3 separate regions of the Homo sapiens genome follow, and all the other regions are linked to region 2. The links come from fine-mapping of genetic effects on gene expression. A gene starts in region 2. Each other region holds a variant in brackets. All regions are shown on one strand. Distances are from middle to middle. Region 1 overlaps KIAA1671. Region 2 holds the start of SGSM1 (small G protein signaling modulator 1). Region 3 holds the start of PIWIL3 (piwi like RNA-mediated gene silencing 3).

Region 1 (8,179 bases), 240 kb after region 2:
CAAACCACCCCGACTCTGAGGAGTCGTCCAAAAGATCTTCCTGTGAGAAGGAAGACTGATGTGATCAGTGACACGTTCCCAGGTAAAATCAGAGATGGCTACAGATCCAGCGTTCTTGACATTGACGCCCTGATGGCAGAGTACCAGGAGCTGTCGCTGAAAGTCCCTGGGGAGGCTCAGGAGAGGAGGAGTCCCACCGTGGAGCCCAGTACGTTGCCTCGGGAGAGGCCTGTTCAGCTGGGCGGGGTGGAGCAGAGAAGGAGGAGCCTGAAGGAGATGCCCGATACCGGGGGTCTCTGGAAACCGGCCAGTTCTGCCGAAATAAATCACAGTTTCACTCCTGGCTTAGGCAAGCAGCTGGCAGAGACCTTGGAGACAGCCATGGGCACCAAATCTAGCCCTCCCTTCTGGGCTCTGCCACCCTCGGCTCCTTCTGAAAGGTATCCAGGGGGCTCTCCTATACCTGCGGATCCCAGGAAAAAAACGGGGTTTGCTGAGGATGACAGAAAGGCCTTTGCCAGTAAACATCATGTTGCAAAGTGTCAGAATTACCTGGCTGAGTCAAAGCCCTCTGGTCGGGAGGATCCAGGCAGTGGGGTCAGGGTGTCACCCAAATCGCCCCCCACTGACCAGAAGAAAGGGACCCCAAGGAAATCCACCGGGCGGGGAGAGGAGGACAGTGTGGCCCAGTGGGGTGACCACCCACGTGACTGTGGACGGGTGCCGCTGGATATCAAGAGGGCCTACTCAGAGAAGGGGCCCCCTGCCAACATCCGAGAGGGCCTGTCCATCATGCATGAAGCCAGAGAGAGGAGGCGAGAGCAGCCCAAAGGGAGGCCCAGCCTTACTGGAGAGAATTTGGAGGCCAAAATGGGACCCTGTTGGTGGGAGTCAGGGACTGGAGACAGTCACAAGGTAAGTACCGAGACACTTTTTAATTTTGTCAAACATGGTTTAAACATCTAGTCTAGGGGGCCGAAACTCAGATTTTGTGTGGCCCACTTTGGGTACATAAATGAGTGGAGTCAGGCTGGGTATGAGGCTCCAGGGAGGGGTATGGATTGTGGCAAATGGAGAGCTCATGCCCTATCTGAACTGGACAACTGCTGCTTGGTCCCACCTGGTTCTTTGTTTGTTTATTTGTTTGTTTGAAACAAAGAGTCTTGCTTAGTTGCCCAGGCTGGAGTGCAGTGGCATGATCATGGCTCACTGCAGCCATAATCTCCTGGGCTCAAGCCATCCTCCCGCCTCAGCCTCCCAAATAGCTGGGATGACAGGCATGCGCCACCATGCTTGGCTAATTTTTTATTTTTTGTAGAGACAGGGTTTTGCCATGTTGCCCAGGCTGGTCTCAAACTCCTGGGCTCAAGTGATCCTCCTGCCTCGGCCTCCCAAAGTGCTGGGATGACAGGCGTGTGCCACCATGCCTGGCCCAGCTGGTTCTTCACAGGCAGGAATGCTGGCCTTGAGATGGCAAACCTCATTTATCAAGAGAATCTGAAAATCTAGATTTTTATGTGTAATCCTCCCATTAGGAAATGAGGAGGACTTATTTTTAAAAATGCTGTTCAGCCCAAACAAGACTTGTCTGCTAGCCCCATGCAGCGCGCCGGCCACCTGTTTTACACTTCTGTCCTACAATGACGATAATGATAGATATCAATGGTAGCTTTATTGTGCTCCTGCTGTATAATAGCCTGTTGTATCCTGTTCATTATTATGTCCCCAGAATCCAGCATCATGCTTGACATACTGTGAATGTTCAAGAAGTATTTGTTGAATGAGTGAACAAGTGATCTTACGTGAGCCTCAAAAGAGGGATCACCATGGTTTTGGGTTCCAGCAGTCCCTTGTTTTTTTTTTTTTTTTTTTTTGAGACGGAGTCTCACACTGTCACCTGGGCTGGAATACAATGGTGTGATCTTGGCTCACTGCAACCTTCGCCTCCTGGGTTTAAGCGATTCTCCTGCCTCAGCCTCCCAAGTAGCTGGGATTACAGGAGCCCGCCATCATACCCGGCTAATTTTTTGTATTTTTTTTTTTTAGTAGAGACGGGGTTTCACTATTTTGGCCAGGCCGGTCTTGAACTCCTGACCTCGTGATCCGCCCACCTTGACCTCCCAAAGTGCTGGGATTACAGGCGCGAGCCACTGCGCCCGGCCTGTAAGCACTTTTTAAGGGGGTGATCCCAGGAAGAACCAGTAGGGGAGAGAAGAAGTGAGGCAGGTGCTACAGGGGCCATGGTTGGCCACAGAGGCACATCTCACTGGGGACCCCGGGAGGCAGCATGGAACACCTCTGAAGTTGTCATGTCCAGGGGTCAAGGGACCTGGAGTATGTATTTTCCAATCCCTCTGTCCTTGCCTGAGGCTGTTTGTGGGGTCATGAACATTCAGACTTTTCCATCCTGGCTGGCACCATGCACAGCAGAAGAAAGAAAATCTGGCTTCCTTTGTTCAGTGAAGAACAGAGAGAAAGAGAAGAATGGATGGCAGGGTGGGGGGTGGGGAGGAAAGGAGGAAGGGATCACTTTAATTACAAGCACACCCTTTTGGGGGTACATAAGCAGAATAGCTGTGAAGAAACCCTCACCCAAATAAGCCACTTTGTTTTTAACACACACACACAAATTCAAATCTACCCAAATATCTATCAGTGAGGCTCTAGGGTGTTGGCAGAGGGCCCCTTCTCTTGATCTTTGGCATATACCTGAGTGTTGGGCAGAGTGCTGACACTACCTACTGCTGTGTGATCATCTTCCTGTACAGATGGGGGGAAAAAAACAGAGGCTCAGAGAGGTGAAATAACTTGTCCCAGGTCACACAGCAGTAAGTAACAAAACTGGTATTTGAACCCAAATCTGGCCTTAATTACCCAACTGGGCCATATTCTAGGAGACCATTCTGGTGAAGAACCACGAAGGTGGGGAAGAAATCTGAGGCATAAGGACCACCCTTTGAAGCTTCTGATCTCTGTGGGGAGATGGGCCATTGTGATCCAAGACTGGGGAGTGATGGGGTGCAGAGGGAGGCACTGGAGAGGTGGCCCAAGGTGTCCTGGAGGAGTCGGTGGTCTCAGCCCAAGCTTGAGGGTTGGCCATGCTTTTGGGTGGGCTGATGAGGGGAGGTGAGGGCATTCTCAGCAGGGCACAGCATGGACAAAGGTTTGGAGGTGGGAAGAGCGTAGAATGTTGTGGGGGACATGTGGAAATGGACTTAGCACCGCCCTGTGTGATGTGGCATCAGCAAATCAGGCCACAGATTCTTCCTTTGCCACTTGCAGCTGAGTGATACAGGGCAAAACCTTTCACCTCCCTGCACCCGAGTTTTCTTGTCTGTAAAAGGGACTAGGTGGCCAGTCTGGAAGTGGATGCTGCAGAAAGGAAACTCTAGGATACAGTCAGTAATGATCATGCGGTGAGGATTTGCCTTCAGTTAAGAGTGGGTAAGTGATGGAGTCAGGCTTTGAACCCATGTCTGTTCCCAAGAGGCCAAGCTCTCCAACCACCATGTGCAGGATCACGCAGACTTGGCATCTGAATCTCCACGCTGCTACTTGCCTGCTGTGTGTAAAGCAGCCTCTTGGCCTCTCCTGGCCTCAGTTGCCATGCCAGAGTTAACAGGGATTCCTGCCCCAAAGCACTGTTATTAGACTGAATTGAAATAAAGCACCGAACTTGGGCCATCCCCGTGTGCTTCCTGAGAAGGGTTTCATCTGTCCCTACCTGCAGGCTGATGTTGTGGTAACAGTGGAAGAAGGAAGAGGCCAAGGAAATGCGACACTTATGTTTGCCAGCACCTTGCTCAGGGCCCGC[T/C]GGTGGTGGGGGAGTCGGGATGTTGTGGAGGGGGGATCCTGGGCTCAGCTCTGTCCCGCAGCCCAGCCTTGGATGCCTGCCTGGAGCACGCAGGCCCCAGCAGTGCTGGTTGTCAGGGGATCTGTTTTCTCACCACGGGATTGGGAAGCCTTGGACCAGCTTCCCGTTTCTCTCTTGTCTCCTGCCAAAAGATCTTTGGTTCTTTGATCTTAAAAAAAAAAATAAAAACACACCAATACAGAAGGAAAAAATGTTGGTTGTTAAAATTTTGAACCTTACAGGGGTATAGAAAATAAAAGGTGAGTGTTCCCCCAGAGGCAGCCACCATTACATTGTTTATGTCCTTTCGGACTTTCCTATATTGACAGTCACTTATCAATCATATATATATGCATAATTGTCATGCTTTTCATATTGCAACAGTAGCGAATGCTTGCGTAAAATGTGAAATACTGGCTGGGCACGGTGGCTCATGCCTGTAATCCCAGCACTTTGGGAGGCCGAGGCGGGTGGATCACGAGGTCAGGAGATTGAGACCATCCTGGCTAACACGGTGAAACCCTGTCTCTACTAAAACTACAAAAAAATTAGCCGGGCACAGTGGCGGGCGCCTGTAGTCCCAGCTACTCCGGAGGCTGAGGCAGGAGAATGGCGTGAACCCGGGAGGCGGAGCTTTCAGTGAGCCAAGATCACGCCACTGCACTCCAGCCTGGGCGACAGAGAGAGACTCCGTCTCAAAGAAAAAAAAAAATTTTGAAATACTATAGAAAAATGGTGTAGAGAGAAAATCTCCTTTAAATATTGAGCGTGGTGCATAAACTGGGGAACACCCCTCTAGGCCCATTAGTGGTTTTTAACTATGGGCAATTTTGCCCCTGGGGCACATTTGGCAGTGTCTGGAGACATATTTTGTTGTTGTCACACCCTGGGAAGAGGTTGCTATTAGCGTCTCATGGGTAGAAGCCAAGCATGCTGCCCAACATCCTACAAGGCACAAGACAGCCCCCACTGCAAAGAATGCTCCAGCCCCAAGTGTTTGCAGTTTGTAGGTTGAGGAACCCTGGTCTAGACACAGACATAGATAAAGGTAAATGCATAGACTTAGATATAGGTAAATACATAAGCTTTCTATGGAAAACTACAACAGTCTATAGAAAATCTTGTGGCTTACTTTTGTTTTTTGAGATGGAGTTTTGCTCTTGTGGCCCAGGCTGGAGTGCAGTGGCAGGATCTTGGCTCACTGCAACCCCCGCCTCCCGGGTTCAAGTGATTCTCCTGCCTCAGCCTCCTGAGTAGCTGGGACTACAGGTGCACACCACCATTCCTGGCTAATTTTTTGTATTTTTAGTAGAGATGGGGTTTCACCATGTTAACCAGGCTGGTTTTGAACTCCTGGCCTCAAGCAGTCTACCTGTCTTGGCCTCCCAAACTGCTAGAATTACAGGCGTGAGCCACTGCACCCGGCCTCCCCTTCCTCTTTTTAATGGTTGCGAAGTATTGTATTATGTGACTGAGCCCAATCTATTTTAACCTAGACTCTCATTGATGGGTATTTGGGTGGATTTGAATTTTTGTGTGTGTTAGAAACAGGGTTGTGCCGGGTGCAGTGGCTCACATCTGTAATCCCAACACTTTGGGAGGCCGAGGCTGGCAGATCACTTGAGGTCAGGAGTTTGAGACCAGCCTGGCCAACATGGTGAAACTCCATCTCTACTAAAAATACAAAAATTAGCCGGGCTTGGTGGCGGGTGCCTGTAGACCCAGCTACTTAGGAGGCTGAGGCAGGAGAATTGCTTGAACCCAGGAAGCGGAGATTGTAGTGAGCGGAGATCGTGCCACTGCACTCCAGCTTGGGCAACAGAGCGAGACTCTGTCTCAAGAGAAAAAAAAAGAAGAAGAAAAAGAAACAAGGTTGGTTCCTTGGGTGAGGGTTTCTTGATTTACAGCCCAAAAGGGTGTGATGGTCATTAAAGTGATTCCTTCCTCTCTCCATCCCTTCCTCTCTCCATCCCTTCCTCTCTTTTTCTCTGTTCTTCACTTAACAGACATTTATAGAAACTGTTTCCCAGACCCAACAGTATTTCATTTATTTAAATTATTTATTTTAGTTTTAAGAGAGAGACGATTTCACATGGCTCCACTCCAAAAATACTTAAAAAACATTCCCCTGATACCTGCCATGCTTACATTTCTTCCACCCGGTAATCACTTTTATTCCTTTTTTTTAAATTCCTTTTTTTCTTTTGAGGCTTCTTTATGAAAATACAAGCACATAGAAATACATATTTTTATTTTTGCTTCACTTTTCCATAATAAAGAGCACTTTCTCTAAGTGGTTGAAACTTTGGTTGCCTATGGGAGTAACACAGGGAATCCTAAAAGATATCAATGACTGGGCCTCTCTCCAGGCCAGTTAGGTCAGAATCTCTGGGGTAGGACCTGCCTTTGTTAGTTATGAAGGCTCCCCAGGGGAATCTTGGGTTGAGGATCTCTGTTGAACCCACAGATTTTCCACCTTTCTGTTTTTCATATAATGTGTCTTGAGAGTTTTTTTTTTTTTTTTTGAGCCAGCGTCTCACTCTGTCACTCAGGCTGGAGTGTAGTAGTGAGATCATGGCTCACTGCGGCCTCAACCTCCTGGGCTCGAGCAGTCCTCCCACCTCAGCCTCCCAAGCAGCTGGGACTACAAGCACATGCCACCACACCTGGCTAATTTTTTTTCTTTTCTTTTTTTTTTTTTTTTTGAGACAGAGTCTTGCTCTGTTGCCCAGGCTGGAGTGCAGTGGCATGATCTCGGCTCACTGCAACCTCCACCTCCTGGATTCAAGCAATTCGCCTGCCTCAGCCTCCCGAGTTGCAAGGATTACAGGCATGTGCCACCTTGCCCAGCTGATTTTTATATTTTTAGTAGAAATGGGGTTTCACCGTGTTGCCCAGGCTGGTCTTGAACTCCTGACCTCAAGTGATCAACCTGCCTTGGCCTCCCAAAGTGCTAGGATTACAGGCGTGAGCCGCCACCACCACCATGCCTGGCCTCTTTTCCTTTTTTTTTTTTTTTTTTTGAGATGGATGGAGTCTCACTCTATTGCCCAGGCTGAAGTGCAGTGGTGTGATGTCGGCTCACTGCAATCTCCACCTCCTGGGTTCAAGCAATTCTCCTGCCTCAGCCTTCCAAGTAGCTGGGATTACAGGCGCTCGCCACCATGCCTGGCTAATTTTCGTATTTGTAGTAGAGACGGGGTTTCACCATGTTGGCGAGGCTGGTCTCAAACTCCTGACCTCAGGTGATCCACCTGCGTCGGCCTCCCGAAGTGGTGGGATTACAGGCATGAGCTACTGCGCCTGGCCTTCCCTTTCTTAATGGTACCCTTTAAAGCACAAAAGTTTTTAATTTTGAAGAAGTCTATTTTATTTATTGTTCTTTTGTTGTTTATGCCTTTGGTATCATATTTAAGAAATCACTGCCTAAGCCTAGCTCTTGAAGATTTACACCTCTATTTTCTTCTAAGAGTTTTCTAGCTTTAGCTCTTACATTTAGGTCTTTGATCTATTTCAAGTTGATTTTGGTATATAGTATGTCAGATTTGCAGCATGTTTTGCAGGTAGAGTCTCAGCTTTGCTGATGCAGTGGAGAAAAGTGGGAGAGAATGGGGAGGAGAATGGAGGGCAACCCGAAGGTCTTGGCCTCCCCAGCTGGGGGATGGATGGGCAAGGTGTGGGAGGAGCAACTGTGGAGAGATGGAATCAAGACGCATGTTTTGAGCACGTGGATCTGAGATGAGTGTGAGCTTCCAAGAGATGTTGAGTGAGCAGTGGGATCTCCGAGTCTGGAGTTCCAACACTGAGAAACAGAATTGGCAGGCATCTGGGTGTAGATGGGATTTATTTAAAGCCATGGGGGGCGTGAAGAGAGATCCCAGAGGGAATGATGTAGCAAAAGGAGAAATGGCTCTGCGGCTGGCCTGGGACATGTGGGGACACTGATCAAAAAGAGCCAGGGGGTTAGGAGGAAAACCAGAGGGTCTCTGAAGGCATCCAGAAAAGAGGCTGTGAGGGAAGGGATTAGAAATCCAGTCTTCCTCTTCCTGGTGCTGTGTGTTCTTAAGCAGCTCCCTCCCATCTCTGGGCCTTTGTTTCCTTGTCCACGCAGGGAGAGTGTGAAGCATATAAAATATGCATCCTGGAGTCCTGGCCTGTGAATGTTTCCCCTATATATAACTAAGTGGAAAAAAACAGCAGGATTCCAAGTAGATGTACTGGAGGTGCTGTGCTGTTCATGCACCGTTTCTCTGTGTCTATGCATGTGTGTTTGGGTGCATAAAGAGATGATTAAAATAAGGTCACCAAGAATGACCACTGGCAGTA
Region 2 (8,179 bases):
ATACATATATAAGGAGATTTATTACAAGAACTTGGCTTATACAATTATGCAAGCTGAGAAGTCCCAGGATTTGCAGTCAGCAAACTGGAGGCCCAGGAGGGCTGATAGTGCAGTTTTAGTCTGAGTCCGAAGGCCCGAGGCCCAGGAAGAGCAGAGGTTTCAATTTGAGTCAGAAGGTGGGAAAAGATGTCGCAGCTCAAACAGTCAGGCAGGAGGAGTTTCCTCTTGTTCTGCCTTTTTTTGTTCCATTCAGATCTTCAATTGATTGAATGAGGCTTACCTACATCAGAGACAGCAATCTGCTTTACTCAGTCGATGGATTCAAACATTAATCTTATCTACAAACACCCTCACAGTCACGCCCAGAATAACCTTTGAGCAAATGTTTGAGCACCCCTGGTCCAAGCAAGTTGACAGATAAAATTCACCATCGCAGCAACAAGGAGTATCTGCTGCATAGGGCATGCAACACAACATTAATCAAGATTTCTCTGTATAGTAAGAGGCTCAAGAGTGCCTCGGCCTGAATCTAGCCTCTCTTACTTTCCAGCTGCATGTCTTGGTTAAGCTGTTTTTTTTTTCTCTCTTTTTTTTTTTTTGAGACGGAGTCTAGTTCTTTTGCCCAGACTGGAGTGCAGTGGTGCAAGCTTGGCTCACTGCAACCTCTGCCTCCCGGGTTCACACAATTCTCCTGCCTCAGCCTCTCGAGTAGCTGGGATTACAGGCACACACCACCAGGCCCGGCTAATTTTTTTTTGTATTTTTAGTAGAGACAGGGTTTCACTATGTTGGCCAGACTGGTCTCGAACTCCTGACCTCATGATCCGCCTGCCTCGGCCTCCCAAAGTGCTGGGATTACAGGTGTGAACCACCACGCCTGTGTTGGCCAGGCTGGTCTCGAACTCCTGACCTCAGGCGATCCACCCGCCTCGGCCTCCCAAAGTGCTGGGATTACAGGTGTGAGCCACCGCGTCCGGCCTAGCCTGGACTTTCTTAGCATTTTTCATTTACGCTGATCACAGAGCTGACCTTTCCCAGCTGAGGGCGCTGAAGAAACATTGCTGGAGAAAGAGGCTTCTCTTAACTGGTTCCAGCTGCTGCACCACTGGTCAGCGCTAAGGGTGTGAGGTGTCATAGGCCAGGTAATGGGATTCTCAGACACTGGGGGAGGCTTTGGGACCCAGGTAAATTTTCCTATTCTGGCCACAGGGAGAGTGCAACTCTTCCCAAGCTGATCTTAGGTGATGGTGCCCCTAGTGGTGAGTGTTCCAACTGCAGCAGGGTGCAATCCCTGGTCCCATGGAATTCAGGGTTCCAATGTCACCTGCTCAGTGGGGCCTCCCTCAACCACTCTGTTTCATAATAAAATCCCCATCTGTCTGGGCCCTCCCTGTCTCCCCTGCCTACTTTGTTTTCCTCCAGAACTTTCCAACATACTCTATTATTTGCTTATTTTATTGTCTGCTTCCTAAGCTCCACGAGGGCAGAGCTTTTTGCCTGTCTCGTTCACTTAGAAGTATCTAGCACAGTCACCTGGCACACAGTAGGTGTTCATAAATATCTGTTGACCTGAGTTGCATGCAGGTCAACCATGCCCTCCTGCCAGTTGCAACTGCACCAAACACCATGGAGTCCTTTATCTTGGAGGAAAAGCTCCAGGTTTTCAAGGACCAGCACAGGTCAACTTCCCAGACTTTGTGCTTGGCAGGAAAAGGAAAAATGTGGGTTTTGAAAAATGATTCCCTAGAGTGAGGCTTAGGCACCCTACCACCTTCCTAAAGTACCCCAGTTAACTTAGGGGTGAAGCCAAGGAGAGGAACTAATGGATCAATCACTTTGGTCCTCAGGTCAGAATCCTGGCGGCCACACACTTGTTAAACAAACAGGGATGAAACCCCCTCCAGGCTTGGCTTTGTCAATGACATAAGGCTCATAGGGTTAGCGTGGGGTGGAAGGAGGGTCAATAAGATCATGTGAGCAAAACCCAAAGCCCTTAGCGCAGTGCCTGCCACATAGTAGGTGCGCAATATATGATTATTTTTGCTGCCAAGCAACCATTTCCCATTCTCCTGGGGGACTTGCTGGAGATTGTGGAGCAGGGGTTTGTGATTGAGACACCTCTCCCCAAGCCAATGGGCAGGCTTGTGTCCCAGGTCAGGACAATCAGGCACTCCCTCCATAGGATGAAAACCTTAAACGAATGGCATTCTCTTTACCAGAGCAGCAGTGCCCTAACCACACTGTCCTTGCCAGGCAAATATTCCCAAGATTCCCCTTTCTGGCCTTCCAGAGCCACCTTGATTTCATCCCATTTCCCAGTTCTCCAGGCTCCCATGGGCTCTGGGATCACATATTATCTTCCCAGTTTATTTCCTTTTGCCTGAGGAAGCCAAAGTCAGCTTCTGTGGCTTACGGCCAGAGACCCCTGACACTGACCAATGGAAAAAAGGGGGCTCTGGATCCACTGCTGCACGGAGAGGCACTCTAAGCTGCCCTCTAGTCCTTCTGAAGGAAGGCCTGAATACTGGGGGACCCTAAAAGGCATTGCAAATCCTTAACATCACCATCAAAGTCATACAGGGTTTTGGCCCTGCACCTCTCTGGCCAACATCCCACCACCGTCCCCATTGTTCACACCACTCCAGCCCCACAGGCATCTGTGCTATTTGTCACTGTTTGACTGGACACACTCCCTCCTCAGGGACTTTGCATTTGCTGTTCCCTTGACTCAACTGCTCTTCCTCCAGAAATCCCCATGGCCTACTCCTTTTCCTCTTTGCTTAAATGTCACCTGCTCAGTGGGGCCTCCCTCAACCACCCTACTTCAGAATACGATCCCCAGGGGTCTGGGCCCTCCCTGTCCCCCTTGCCTACTTAATTTTTCTCCAGAACTTTCCAGCATGGTCTGTCCTTTTCTTACATATTTTGTTGTCCGCCTCCTAAACTCCATGAGGGCAGAGTTCATTGTCTGTCTTGCTCACTTAGAAATCTCTAGCACAGTCACTTGGCACAGAGTAGGTGCTCAATAAATATTGACCTGAGTTGCATTCTGGGTGGATACAGTTAGGGACTTGGGGTGACCAGGGGCTCTTGATGGAACAAGGCTTTTCCCACAGAGCCCACTGCTTGCTCAGCCCCAGAGATCCTGGCTGACAAGTGCCTCCTTTTGGGGCCAGACTCCTGGGAAAACCCCACTCCTCCAGTGACCTGCATGTCGGGGAGGGAGCCACTTAAGTCCCGGCCTCTCCTGAATGGATAACCAGTGTATCTTGGAAGACTCTTTTTTTTTTTTTTTTTTTTGAGATGGAGTTTCACTTTTGTTGCCCAGGCTGGAGTGTGGTGGCACAATCTTGGCTCACTGACACCTCTGCCTCCAGGGTTCAAGCAATTCTCATGCCTCAGCCTCCTGAGTAGCTGGGATTACAGGAGCACGCCACCATGCCTGGCTAATTTTTGTATTTGTATTTTTTTTATTTTTTGAGACGGAGTCTCACTCTGTCGCTCAGGCTGGAGTGCAATGGCGCCATGTTGGATCACTGTAACCTCTGCTTCCCGGGTTCAAGAGATTCTCCTGCCTTAGCCTCCCCAGTAGCTGGGATTACAGGCAGCTCGCCATCATGTCCGGCTAATTTTTGTATTTTCGTAGAGACGGGGTTTCACTATGTTGGCCAGGCTGGTCTCGAACTCCTGACCTCAAGTGATCTGCCCGCCTCGGCCTCCCAAAGTGTTGGGATTACAGGCGTGAGCCACCGCGACCGGCTGGAAGACCCTCAATAATAATAATTAATAATAATAACAGTAACAGTGGCAAGCATTTATGCTCGCTGGCCTTTCCCCCTGGGTCTGTATTAAGGGCTTCACATCCAATATCTCACTTAAGGCTCAGATCGTTCTGAGACCCATTATGCCCATTTTATACCACATTATACCCATTTTAAAGATGAGAAAACTGAGGCTTGGAGAATATCGGTAGTAGCCCCACCATTTCCTGTGACTTCCTGGAGCCTGGCCCACAGAGGAGGGTTCAGGACGGACGCTTTCCTTCCCCGCCCTAGGGAAGAGGGAGGGACGCGGGCGCTGGCGTGGAGGTTGGGGGAGCCTGAGAGGCTCGGGCGCTGGGTGCGCGGGAGGGAGCGTGCGTGCTTGGCGCGAAGGCTCCTGGCGCAGGCGACCCGGCTGCCCCGCCGAGCGGTGGCTTTCCGGAGGGGTGGGGCGGCCGCCTCGGGTCCTGACGTCGGGCGCCCTCCGGCCGTCACTCAGCGCTCGGCCCCGCCCCGCCGCGGCTGCAGCAGCAGCGCCGCGGCCGGAGGAGCTACCGCCGCCACCGCCGCCACCGCCTCCTGGGACTCGGAACGCAGCGCTCGGAGCCATGGCCTCGGCCCCCGCGGGTAAGAGGCCGCTGGACACGAGGGCGGCGGGAGGGCAGCGCCCGGCCCCCGCACCCTCTCTCGGCTGACCCGCGGCTCTCGTTTCTTGTCCCACAGAGGCGGAGACCCGACAGAGGCTGCTACGCACCGTCAAGAAGGAGGTGGGTGCCGGGGTGGGGGCACTGGGCAGGACTCCCCCGGCAGCAGCGGCCAAACGGGAAAAGAGTCTTCGTGGAAGGGTGGCCTCTGGCGGCGGGGGGGCGGCCAGAACAGGTGTGGGGCTCACCTGGGTGGGCATTGACCTCCCGCAGGGCAGGAGGCGCAGCGAGGGAGTTTGGGGGTGGGCGTAGGTGTGGGGAGGCTTTGGCCCATTTGAGGCTTTTTGCGGGGGCGGATGTAGCGTGAGGGCCCTCCAGGTGTGGGGCACACCTGGATGTATCCCGATAGGACCTCCTCTTGTGGAGGAGCAGGTGGGCGCGGCTCAGGAAGGGGACCTTCCAAGAGAGAGAAGCTGCTAGGGGGACGCCCCCCACAGGGTGTGCTGGAGGAGGGGCTCTGAATGGGGCTGCCGAAGGTGGGGCACGCTTCAGGAAAAGGCAGAAGGAAAATAAAACCTCCCTTCCCAGCCCCCGAATTCTCAGTCCTTGGAGCCACCTCCAAGAGCCAGGGGACTCCCTCCCTGAGAGTCACGGGTCAGTGAGCTGCTCCCCTGGCAGTAGGGGTCCCTTCACTCCCCCCGCCCCACTCCCACCCCACATTCAGAGGGTGAGAATCAGAGAGGTTCTGCCATTCCTCTGCCCCTCCACTCTCCTTGGGGTCAGCGCGTGGAGAGGGGGGCAGTCTAGTCTTTAGGGCTCATGGCCAATGACCTCCCAGAACCCCATAGACAGAATTTATAGTCCTTGGGGTAGCATCTCGATGCCTGGACTGCGTGCTCTGGTGTGTATACCTGCATGGGTGAGGACCTGTGGCTGTGAGTGTGTGCGTATGAGAATGTCTGTGCATCTGTCTGGAGATACCTAAGTGTATCTCTTTGCACTGTGTGTACACGTATCTATGTGTGTCTTTGTATCTGTTTTTGTGAGGGTGGGTCTGTGTGTGTATATTGTGTGGTGCATGAGTCTGTGAATGAGTGATGCTGTGAGTGTGTGTGTGTATCTTGAGTAGGTGTGTGGCATGTGATGCATGAGTCTGCATGAATAACTAGGGCTGTGACTCCGTCTGTGTGCGTGTGTCTTGTGTGTTGCCCTCCCCATTCTTCAGTCTCAGACCCCATTGCTGCTGTGTCTTCATCACTTTTGAACCTTATCAGCGCTTAGCCCAAGGCCTTGCATGGCAGCAGACATCGTGGGCTGGCCTGGTTTCTGGGCCTGGCTTTCAGTGTGTGTGTGTGTACATGCGTGCATGTGTGTGTATGTGTTGGGGGTGTTGGCTGAGGTGGCAGCATCAAGCATCACTGATGACCCCTCCTTCCCTGCACAGTGGCAGACAGCCACCAAGGGCAGCCTCGAGGCTTGGACCTGTTGCTGCTCCTCCGTCCTCCGGGAGCATGAGTATGTGCCTGCGTGTGTGTGTGTGTGTGTGTGTGTCTCTGTGTGTGGCATGTCCTATTTTGTTTAAAGAATGAGCTCCAGGGCTGCTTGCACATTCTAGCATTTTCGAATGAGACATGCAAAATACATTGGATCCCTCAGAAAGGCCCAGAAGTTTTCAGCTCAGCCCTTGTATAGACTCCTGTGGGTATTCCAAGGGAGATCCATCTAGAACCTCTTATCTTTTTTTTTTCTTGGTGTTTTTTTTTTTTTTTTGAGACGGAGTCTCGCTCTGTTGCCCAGGATAGAGTACAGTGGCACAGTCTCCACTCACTAAAAACTCCACCTCCTGGGTTCACGCCATTCTCCTGCCTCAGCCTCCCAAGTAGCTGAGACTACAGGAGCCACCATGTCCGGCTAATTTTTTATTTTTTTATTTTTAGTAGAGACGGGGTTTCACCACGTTAGCCAGGATGGTCTCGATCTCCTGACCTCGTGATCGCCTGCCTCGGCCTCCCAAAGTGCTGGAATTACAGGCGTGAGCCACTGCTCCCAGCCTAGAACCTCTTTTCAATAGAACTCACAGACCAACAACATCCTTGTCACTTTCAGTGGAGGGGCATGTACCTTACAAAGCACCTGCTGTCTTTTTGTTCGTGGTTTAACCAGACCTACGTGTAATATGTGTCCCTGAGATGTTTTTGCCTGGGGTAGCTTTGTTTTTAAGGCAATGGTTGGTTGAATGGGGAGGGGGCTGCAGGCAGAAGAGAACACCAGTAAGACATCTGGGGAAGGCTCTGGCTGAGGCCCAGGTCCCAGCTCAGCTACCATCTTCCTCAGTTTCCTGCGCAGGTTCCTTCTTCTCTCTAGGAGTCAGTTTCTCCATCTGCAGAAGGATGCATTAGTATCAGTGTCCTCTAAGGTCTGACCCGTGTCAGTCTAGTTTGGGTCTTGGGCTCAAAGAGGGGGAATAACTTGCCCAAGAGCACACAGCCAAGATGGGACAGAGTTGGGACTTACCCCCCAGGTCTTTTTGATGTCAGAGCCACACTCTGACCCTCCCATCCCACAAACATGCTCATCCAAATCTACACGGTGCCACACCTTGGACAGAATGTGTGGGCAGTACAGTTTCTACTGTACAGATGAGAACACTGTGGCCCAGAGACAATAAGTGACATTTCAAGGGCACAGAACCAGTGTGAGGGAACAGGTTCCGTTCTTCTGTCTTTTGAGTTCCTATTCAACATAGGTACCCTAAGAACATGGCAACAACTCGGTGCCCCCCAAAGCACGTCTCCCCTGTCCTTTCCTTCCTTTGCTTACCTCTTTGGGGAGCATCTCTCTCAGTGTCAGAGAGCCAGTCTCTAGTGGAACAGAAGGGAAAGCTCTTTGCCTAGAAATCTGAGAGTCAAATCAGATCTCCCTCCTCCCCACTCTCTGGGTTCAAAGGAGCCACATCTCTGCCTGTCACAGCCTCACCCAGAGACTGCATTGTATGTACACATATCTACATGTGTCTGTGTGTATATCTGTCTTCTGTGTGTACATCTGTTTCCCCAGCCTTCTTTCTAGAAGGAGTGCCTTAACAATCGACATCTCTAGATAGGCTGGGCAGCTCTGCAAGGTTTGCCAGAGCCACTGCAGCCACGAAGGGGCCAACAGAGGCTGGGAGCTGGAAACTGTCCAGTGCTGGCCTGGGGAGCCAGCTGGACACAGCACCCATGAGGCAGGTCAAGAAGAACTTTGGGCTCAACTAGAGCTGGATTCCAACCCCAGATGTGTTTATTTACTGAGGGCTGTGTGTCAGACCCTGGGCTAGGTTCTGTGGATATAGCAGGGACAGGCCCCTTGTAGATGGGCCCTGTCCCTGTCCTCCTGGGGCTGACCTTGCAGCGGAGGAAACACACTCCCAACAGTTACCTTATCAAAATTACAAGGATAATTACAGGCTGTGAACAGAGATGTGAAGGAGAGGCACCCGGGGCTGCAAGAACCCAAAACAGGGACAACTGACCATGTGCAGGGGCCCAGGATATGACGTTTCAGAAGACAGGTGCAAGATGAGTAGGACTTTAAGGTGAAGATAAGAGGGTTGAGAGACACTAAGAAAAACCATTCCTGGCAGAAGGTTTTGTACATGCAGAAGCTTTGTGGCTGGAGGGAACACTGTGAATTTGAAGGAACCGAAGTGACCGGAGCAGAGACAAAGGAGAAAGGTGCAGATGCGGAGAAGGCGGAACATGTGGTCTTATCCCAAAAGCAAGGGAAAGGAATGGG
Region 3 (8,179 bases), 30 kb before region 2:
AAGAATTATTATCATATCAAAAGCAGCAATTACAAAAGAAGCAGTGTTAAATTTTAAACAGAATGAAAGATTAAACCCTTAGATTTGATAATCATATTAATAAAGAGAAGTAAATCTTATCAATATAAGTATTAAGTACTAAGTAGTTGTATATTTCACAATGTAAGTAAATCTTATATTGAAGGAATAAAGTCTGCATAATAGGAGCTCATTAAATAGCAACTTCTATGAGCAACAGGACAATATTATGTCCCTGGCATTTGGACTTAGACAAAAACCTTTGTGGAATCATAGCCTGTCCAGGTATGTGCTGTGTGACCCTGAGCAGGTGATATCATCTCTCTGAGACCCTGTTTCCTAGTATGTTGGGTATTGAAAACTTATGTCACAGGGGCCTGTGGGGGTTACAGGAGCCAATCTGTGCAAAGAGCTCAGCAGGTGCTGAGTGCTCAGCAAGTTACAGCTACTGGAGTTAAAATCACTACCACAGTGGAGAAGAGCCCTGGCAAAGGCTGCAGTCTCCATTCTACCCACTGGGAAATCCGAACGGCTGACCAGCTCCCCTGTCTTTCCCAAACTAGGATCCCAGGAATTAGAAATGGTGGTGCTTAGGTGGGTGCACAGCAGCATCTAGTGGACTAGAAGGAGAACTGAAGAAGTGTCACAATGACATCGGGAAGAGAAAGTTTTAAGGCTGGGGAAAAGGTTGGCAGAGAAGTCAGGAAGGAGGCCTGCATGTGCCGGGTGTCCCCTGTGGGGAGATCAGATGAGGTACCTTAACAGTTATCTGGACCTCAAGCCCCCATGTGCTAGCTGAGGGCGTCCTTCTCCCTCCCCAGGCCTCCCTGGGTGCTGGGTCTCTGGGTCCTATGGGCTCAGGGGCCCATCTTTTTCAAGTTCTGCTCCACGTGTCTGTGTCCAGCTGAGGGCACTGACCCCACTGCCCCAGTCCCCAGGGCTTAGATGCCAGGACAGTAGAAAGCTGTGTGCCAGGGCATAACCAAGGTGTCCTCCACTGCTCTGGGCCACACATTGGCAGCTGGGCCCTGTGTCCCTCTGACACCGGATCCTAGGGTTTCTGGCTCTGCCATCTCTGCTGTGATGCTCCATTCCAACCATGTGGCTCAGCAGGGAGGGCATTACACACTGTCCCTTCCCCCTTTTCCATACTCCTGCCTTCCTGCATGCCCTGCACAGGAACCCTCTTCCCTTCTCCTTTTGCCAAAAGAATTCAGAAGATACCAACTTTCTCCTCTTTTCCTGTCTGCAGTGGAGGTCCCGGCAGGACCCCCTCCTGAGCTGTGAGGGTTAAATGGGAGAAGGTGTATTGAGCTTGAAGCACTGGCAGGTCCCACAACGAATGCTCAAAAAATGGAAGCCTCTGCCACCATCTGCATCATCCCCATCAACCACAGGAGCAAAGAGCCCGCCTTTTCTGAGAAGAGCATTTACATATTGATAGAAATTCCGCGGTTTTATTTATCATCACGTCAGTTTTAAGGATGTAAGTAGGTACACATATACATATGTATCTAAAATATATTAAGTTTTTAAAAGTAGGTTATTAAAGGATATGTACAAGACACTCTAGATTTTTTTTTTTTTTTTTTTTTTTTGAGATGGGAGTCTCACTCACTCTGTTGCCCAGGCTGGAGTACAGTGGTGCGATCTTGGCTCACTGCAACCTCCGCCTCCCAGGTTCAAGCAATCCTCCTGCCTCAGCCTCCCAAGTAGCTGGGACTACAGGCACCCGCCACTGCGCCCAGTTAATTTTGGTATTTTTCGTAGAGACGGGGTTTCACCATCTTGGCCAGGCTGGTCTTGAACTCCTGACCTCATGGTCCAGCCGCCTCAGCCTCCCAAAGTGCTGGGATTACAGGCATGAGCCACTGTGGCTGACCAAGATGCTCTAGATTTTTAAAATAAATATACATACTCCACATGCTCAAATATAAGCTGAATCTGTAACCCAGCAGCTTAGCAGCCTAACCTCAAACCGCATTTTAAAACTTTTTTTCCTTTCCCCTTTCCTCTCTTCTGCTAATCTGAAGATGTAACTTAGACAAAGTATAGACGTGTTTCCTCTCCTCTTGAAATCCAGCCTTGGAATGTGCTGTGAACCTCCACCCCCTTTCTTTTCCTGTTCTATGCCCCCATGCCTTATGCACATTTATTTACCTAGTTGTTTGGTAAGCACACACCATACTCACTTATCTGGTCACATATTTCCTTAGAAGCTTCAGTAGTCAGATCCTGATACGAACCATGCACCTCCTCCAGCCATGATGACGCCGGCCACTTCCACAGATGGAAAAATAATTCAGGACAAGCCACTGGAGGGGGTCACACCACCTGACACCTCCCAGTCCCCCTGCCTCTTTTGCCTTCCAAATCCTCCCTTTAAAAACCGCTTTGGCCGGGCGCGGTGGCTCACGCCTGTAATCCCAGCACTTTGGCAGGCTGAGGCGGGTAGATCATGAGGTCAGGAGATGGAGACCATCCTGGCTAACACAGTGAAACCCTATCTCTACTAAAAATACAAAAAATTAGCCGGGCGTGGTGGCGGGCACCTGTAGTCCCAGCTACTCGGGAGGCTGAGGCAGCAAAATGGCGTGAACCCGGGAGGCGGAGCTTGCAGTGAGCCGAGATCACGCCACTGCACTCCAGCCCGGGTGAAAGAGTGAGACTCTGTCTCAAAAAATAAACAAATAAATAAATATCTTAAAAAATAAAATAAAATAAATAAAAACCCCTGCGTTCATCCGAGCGCAGTGGCTCACGTCTGTAATCGCAGCACTTTGGGAGGTCAAGGCCGGAGGATCACGAGGTCAGGAGATGGAGACCATCCTGACTAACGCGGGGAAACCCCGTCTCTACTAAAAATACAAAAAATCAGCTGGGCATGGTGGCATGTGCCTGTAGTCCCAGCAACTCGGGAGGCTGAGGCAGGAGAATCGCTTGAACTCAGAAGGCGGAGGTTGCAGTGAGCTGAGATTGCGCCACTGCACTCCAGCCAGATTGGGCGACAGAGCAAGACACCGTCGCAAAAAACAAACAAAAAAAACCCCTGCGTTCTTTCCTCACGTGGAAGAGTGGAATTGCTCTCTGCTCTTGCCCTTGCTAGCATAGATTATAAAATTCTTTCTTTTTAAATCACATGTCATTATCATTTTGACTTCTTTCTACAAGCAGTGAGCAGCTGGGCCCTTTTGCTGGTTACAACATGAGTGACTGGGGCAAATACATCAATCAAGGTTTATCAAGCCAGATTTAGGTTGTTTCTGGGAAAAACACGAGCCAAACATGCACCTGTGGCTATTTTTCTGAAAAGGTTTTTCAGGAGATTTCCTATTTTTTTTAAGAAACTTTATTTTATTTTATTTTATTTATATCTCTATGTATTTATTGAGATGGAGTCTCGTTCTGTCGTCCAGGCTAGAGTGCAGTGATGTGATCTCTGCTCACTGCAGCCTTCGCCTCCCGGGTTCAGGCGATTCTCCTGACTCAGCCTCCTGAGTAGCTGGGATTACAGGTGCATGCCACCACACCAGGCTAATTTTTGTATTTTCAGTAGAGACGGGGTTTCATGATATTGGCCAGGCTGATCTCAAACTTCTGACCTCAAGTGATCCACCCACCTTGGGATTACAGGCGTGAGCCACCATGCCCAGTCGGGGATCAGAGTTTTTAAAAATGATTTGGTGGGTATGGGCTCAGGAAGTAGGGAGTGCTTATTGGTCGGGTTGGAGATGGAATCATGGGGGTGGAAGTGAGTTCTTGCTGATTTCTCTTCCTGGATGAGATCGCAGGACTGGTTGAGCCAGATTATCAGTCTGGGTGGTGTCATCTGCTGCATCGGAATTCAGGGTATGCAAAATATCTCAAGCACTGATCTTAAGTTTTGCAAC[G/A]GAGATTTTATTCCCAGAAGCAACTTGGGGAGGTTCAGACTCTTGCGGCCAGAAGCTGCATGGCCCCTAAGCCGTAATCTCTCATCTTGTAGCTAATTTGTTAGTCCTACAAAGGCAGGACAGTTCCCCACGCAAGAAGCGTCTTTTTTTCAGGAAAGGACTATTATCAGTTTTGTTTCAGAATTTAAACTATAAACAATTCTTCCCCAAGACTAGTTTGGCCTATGCCCAGGAATGAACAAAGACAGCTTAGGCGTTAGAAGCAAGGTGTGGTCGGTTAGGTCTGATCTGTTTCACTGTCATAATTTTCTCAGTTATGAGTTTTGCAAAGGCCCTTTCAATGGGGTGACTATAGTAAGTTAATTTTCCTCCTCTTTCTTCTGGTTTACCCAAGGGCATGTGGAGTCATAGAACTGTCCAGCAGGCACTGAAAGTAAAAAGTCTGTGATAAACCACCTAAATTTCTAGCTAGGCTAGTGGGAAAGGGGTCTCCTGCACATCAAGGAGTAAGGGGATCATCCTTGGTTTGTTTTGTTTTTATCTCCCCAGTTGCAAAGCTGTCCTGCAGCCTCAGCAATGGCAGAGGGACCTAAAGCCCTGAGAAATCACTTGGCTCACTGGGCAGAGGAAAAGGAAAGAGACTTCTGCATCTGAAAAGTATAGGGGAAATCTCTTTTTGTTTCTTCCTGTACTTCACTTGAAAGGCTGACCTAGACGCGTGTAACTGCACAGCAGCACGGGTGCTGCAACACTGATAGGAGCATGAAAACGGAACCCTGCAGAATCCTGCAGAGGAGAAAGCTAAAGGGGATCACTTAAATGGATGTATGAATTAACATAAGTCCTAGGATCACCCTGAACTATGCATGCACAGAAGCAGAGCAAGGGTTTTGAGAAACGAACTATAATATAAACCACCACTCAACTCCCAGATTTACCCAAGTGGATACACCAGCATAGCAAAGGCTTGAAAACTGCACTGAGACTGGAACAACTGTCAAAGAAAACAGGACAGGGCTGGGCACGGTGGCTCACACCTGTAATCCCAGCACTTTGGGAGGCCAAGGTGGGCAGATCACGAGGTCAGGAGTTCAAGACCAGCCTGGCCAACATAGTGAAACCCCGTCTCTACTAAAAATACAAAAAATTAGCCAGGCGTGGTGGCGGGCGCCTGTAATCCCAGCTACTTGGGAGGCTGAGGCAAGTGAATCGCTTGAACCCAGGAGGTGGAGGTTGCAGTGAGCTGAGATTGAGCCATTGCACTCCAGCCCAGGTGACAGTGTGAGACTCCGTCTCAAAAAAAAAAAAAAAAAAAAAAGAAAAGAAAACAAGACAGAATATGTGGTTTAACCTAAACTATGTTGAATGCTCAATACGACAACAATAACAACAACAAAATGAACATTTCTCTGGCAGATTTTAGTAAGAACCAGAATCTCACAATATAATAAGCAAACTGTCCAGGATACTCTCCAAAATTATGCGGTAGAACATAAGACAAATCTGACCAACTCTCAAGGGAAAAGATAATCAAAAATCCGGCCTTGAAAGACCCACATGAAGGGACAATTTATGCTTTAATCAGAAGTTTGGTTAAAATTTAATTCTAGTTAAAGTTATAATTAGATTTAAAATTTAGAGGGAAAACATCTATTATAACCATTCTCAAAAAAATAAAATAAAGGTAGTACTCTTTTTTTTTTTAAGACAGAGTCTTGCTCTGTCACCCAGGCTGGAGTGCAGTGGTGTGATCTCAGCTCACTGCAAGCTCCACCTCCCGGGTTCAAGCAATTCTCCTGTCTCAGCCTCCTGAGTAGCTGGAGCTACAGGCGCCCGCCACCACGCCCAGCTAATTTTTTGTGTTTTTAGTAGAGACGGGTTTTCACCGTGTTAGCCAGGATGGTCTCGATCTCCTTACATTATGATCCGCCCGCCTCGGCCTCCCAAAGTGCTGGGATTACAGGGGTGAGCCACCGCGCCCGGCCTAAGTACTCTTAAAATTAATGGAAAGCTACAAGTCTTCATCAGAAGAGAAGAAATTATAAAAAAGAAGCAAATGGAAATCTTAAATGCATATGCAACATCTAAAATGAAAAATGTACTGATTCAACTCAATTATAGACTGGAGAAAAAAATCAGTGAAATTGAAGATATGTAAATAGAAATGATACAATATGACGAACAAAGAAATAAAGATTGAGGAGTAATTCTCTGAACCTCAGAGATGTGTGGGACACTATCAAAATTTCTTTTTTTTTTTTTTTGAGACGGAGTCTCGCTCTGTCACCCAATCTGGAATGCAGTGGCGCCATCTTGGCTCACTGGAAACTCCGCCTCCCAGGTTCACCCCATTCTCCTGCCTCAGCCTACCGAGTAGCTGGGACTGCAGGCGCCCGCCACCACGCCCGGCTAATTTTTTTTGTATTTTTAGTAGAGACGGGGTTTCACCATGTTAGCCAGAATGGTCTCGATCTCCTGACATCATGATCCGCCCGCCTCGGCCTCCCAAAGTGCTGGGATTACAGGCGTGACCCACCGCGCCTGGCCTACTATCAAAATTTCTAACATTCTGCCCATTGGAGTGCCTGAAAGAAGAACTTGATGCAGAATAAATTGAGGGGAAATTGACTGAAAACCTCCCAAACTTGTGAAACATAGATCCAAGAAGCTCAGAAAACCCTCACCCTGCTAGATTATAACAACCTAAACTAAAGAAAAAAGTCTAGAAAACAGAGGGGGGAAATGACACGTTATACACGAGGAAATTACAATATGAATGCTTGTGATTTCTCAGAAAGATGCCAGAAGAAAGCAGAACCACATTTTTAAATGTTGAAAAAGAGCATTGGCCGGGTACGGTGGCTCATGCCTGTAATCTCAGCACTTTGCGAGGCTGAGGCAGGTGGATCATGAGGTCAGGAGTTTGAGACCAGCCTGACCAACATGGTGAAACCCTGTCTCTACTAAAAATACAAAAATTAGCTGGGCATGGTGATGGGTGCCTGTAATCCCAGCTACTCAGGAAACTGAGGCAGGAGAATCACTTGAACCCGGGAGGCAGAAGTTGCAGTGAGCTGAGATCGCGCCACTGCACTCCAGCCTGGGCAACAGAGCAAGACTCTGTCTCAAAAAAAAAAAAAAGAAAGAAAGAAAAAAGAAAAAGAGAACTATCAACCCAAGATACCATATGCAGCAAAAATATCCTTAAAGATTGAAAGAGGAAAAGGAAAAAGAAAAAGAATGAATGACATGGAGATGGGAATAAAACTAAGAGACTTCATCACTGGACAACTTACTCTAACATTATGTGAAAGAAGTACAAACGGACTGAAATGAAATTAGATAGGCAGGAAGCTTGGAACTACAGGAATAAAGTAAGAGCAAGAGAAATGGTACATATATGTGTAAATGTGATACCCTATTTTTCTCCTCTTAATTTTTTTTTTTTTTTTTTTTGAGACAGAGTCTCACTCTTGTCACCCAGACTGGAGTGCAGTAGTGTGATCTGGGCTCACTGCAACCTCTGCCTCCTGGGTTCAAGCAATTCTCCTGCCTCAGCCTCCTGAGTAGCTGGGATTACAGGTGCCTGCCACCACACCTAGCTAATCTTTGTAGCTTTTTTTTTTTTTTTTGGTAGAGACAGGGTTTCACTATGTTGGCCAGGCTAGTCTCGAACTCCTGACCTCAAGTGATCCGCCCGCCTCAGCCTCCCAAAGTGTTGAGATTACAGACATGAGCCTCCATGCCCGGCCTTAAATTCTTGACTATAAGTAAGACTTGTGACAACAAAAATTATAGTACCATCTCAGAGGGCAGCGTTCAAATATGCAGATGTGGCACATAGGACAACTGTAACAAAGAGTGAAGGGTGTCAGCATCCATGTGGCCATTAGGTGACTACATTTTACTTGAATTGGTAAATTATTAACTCTAATTAGAAGGTGAAAGGTTTGGTAAATATACTGTTATTCCCATAACAACTAAATACAATTACAAACTCACCCCCCAAAATTATGGAACCTCAATAGCTCTATATCCAGGAGATATGAATAAAGCAGCTAAAATATTCACATACAGGTTTTTGTGTGAAAATAAGTTTGATTTCTCTTGCTTAAGTACCTTGAAGTGAAATTGCTGGGTCATACAGTAAATACATCTCTCCCAACCTGCCTCCACAGGATTGGGTTAGCACCTGCACTTCTGTTCTTAGAGGCTCTTCCCTCTGGTATTCTTGGGGGAAAAACCAGATGGATACACAGATGGCTCACTTC

Evidence for each region.
Region 1: its variant is fine-mapped to the expression of SGSM1 in thyroid (GTEx, PIP 0.97).
Region 3: its variant is fine-mapped to the expression of SGSM1 in sun-exposed skin (GTEx, PIP above 0.99). The same link has a PIP of 0.9 or more in unexposed skin.

What each region holds. Positions count from the first base shown.
Region 1 is chr22:25,040,611-25,048,789 of GRCh38, forward strand. KIAA1671 reads left to right here. Exons shown (of 13, transcript NM_001145206.2): 5 at 1-915. Among named protein-coding and RNA genes, the nearest start is that of KIAA1671-AS1, 68 kb to the right of the region's middle. The variant T/C (reference allele first, on the strand shown) is at 3,815.
Region 2 is chr22:24,801,957-24,810,135 of GRCh38, forward strand. SGSM1 (small G protein signaling modulator 1) reads left to right here and starts at 4,255. Exons shown (of 25, transcript NM_001098497.3): 1 at 4,255-4,388; 2 at 4,485-4,528. The coding sequence starts at 4,370. RefSeq lists a silencer at 4,093-4,302.
Region 3 is chr22:24,772,112-24,780,290 of GRCh38, forward strand. It overlaps PIWIL3 (piwi like RNA-mediated gene silencing 3), which reads right to left and starts at 2,609. Exons shown (of 21, transcript NM_001255975.1): 1 at 2,211-2,609. The variant G/A (reference allele first, on the strand shown) is at 3,909.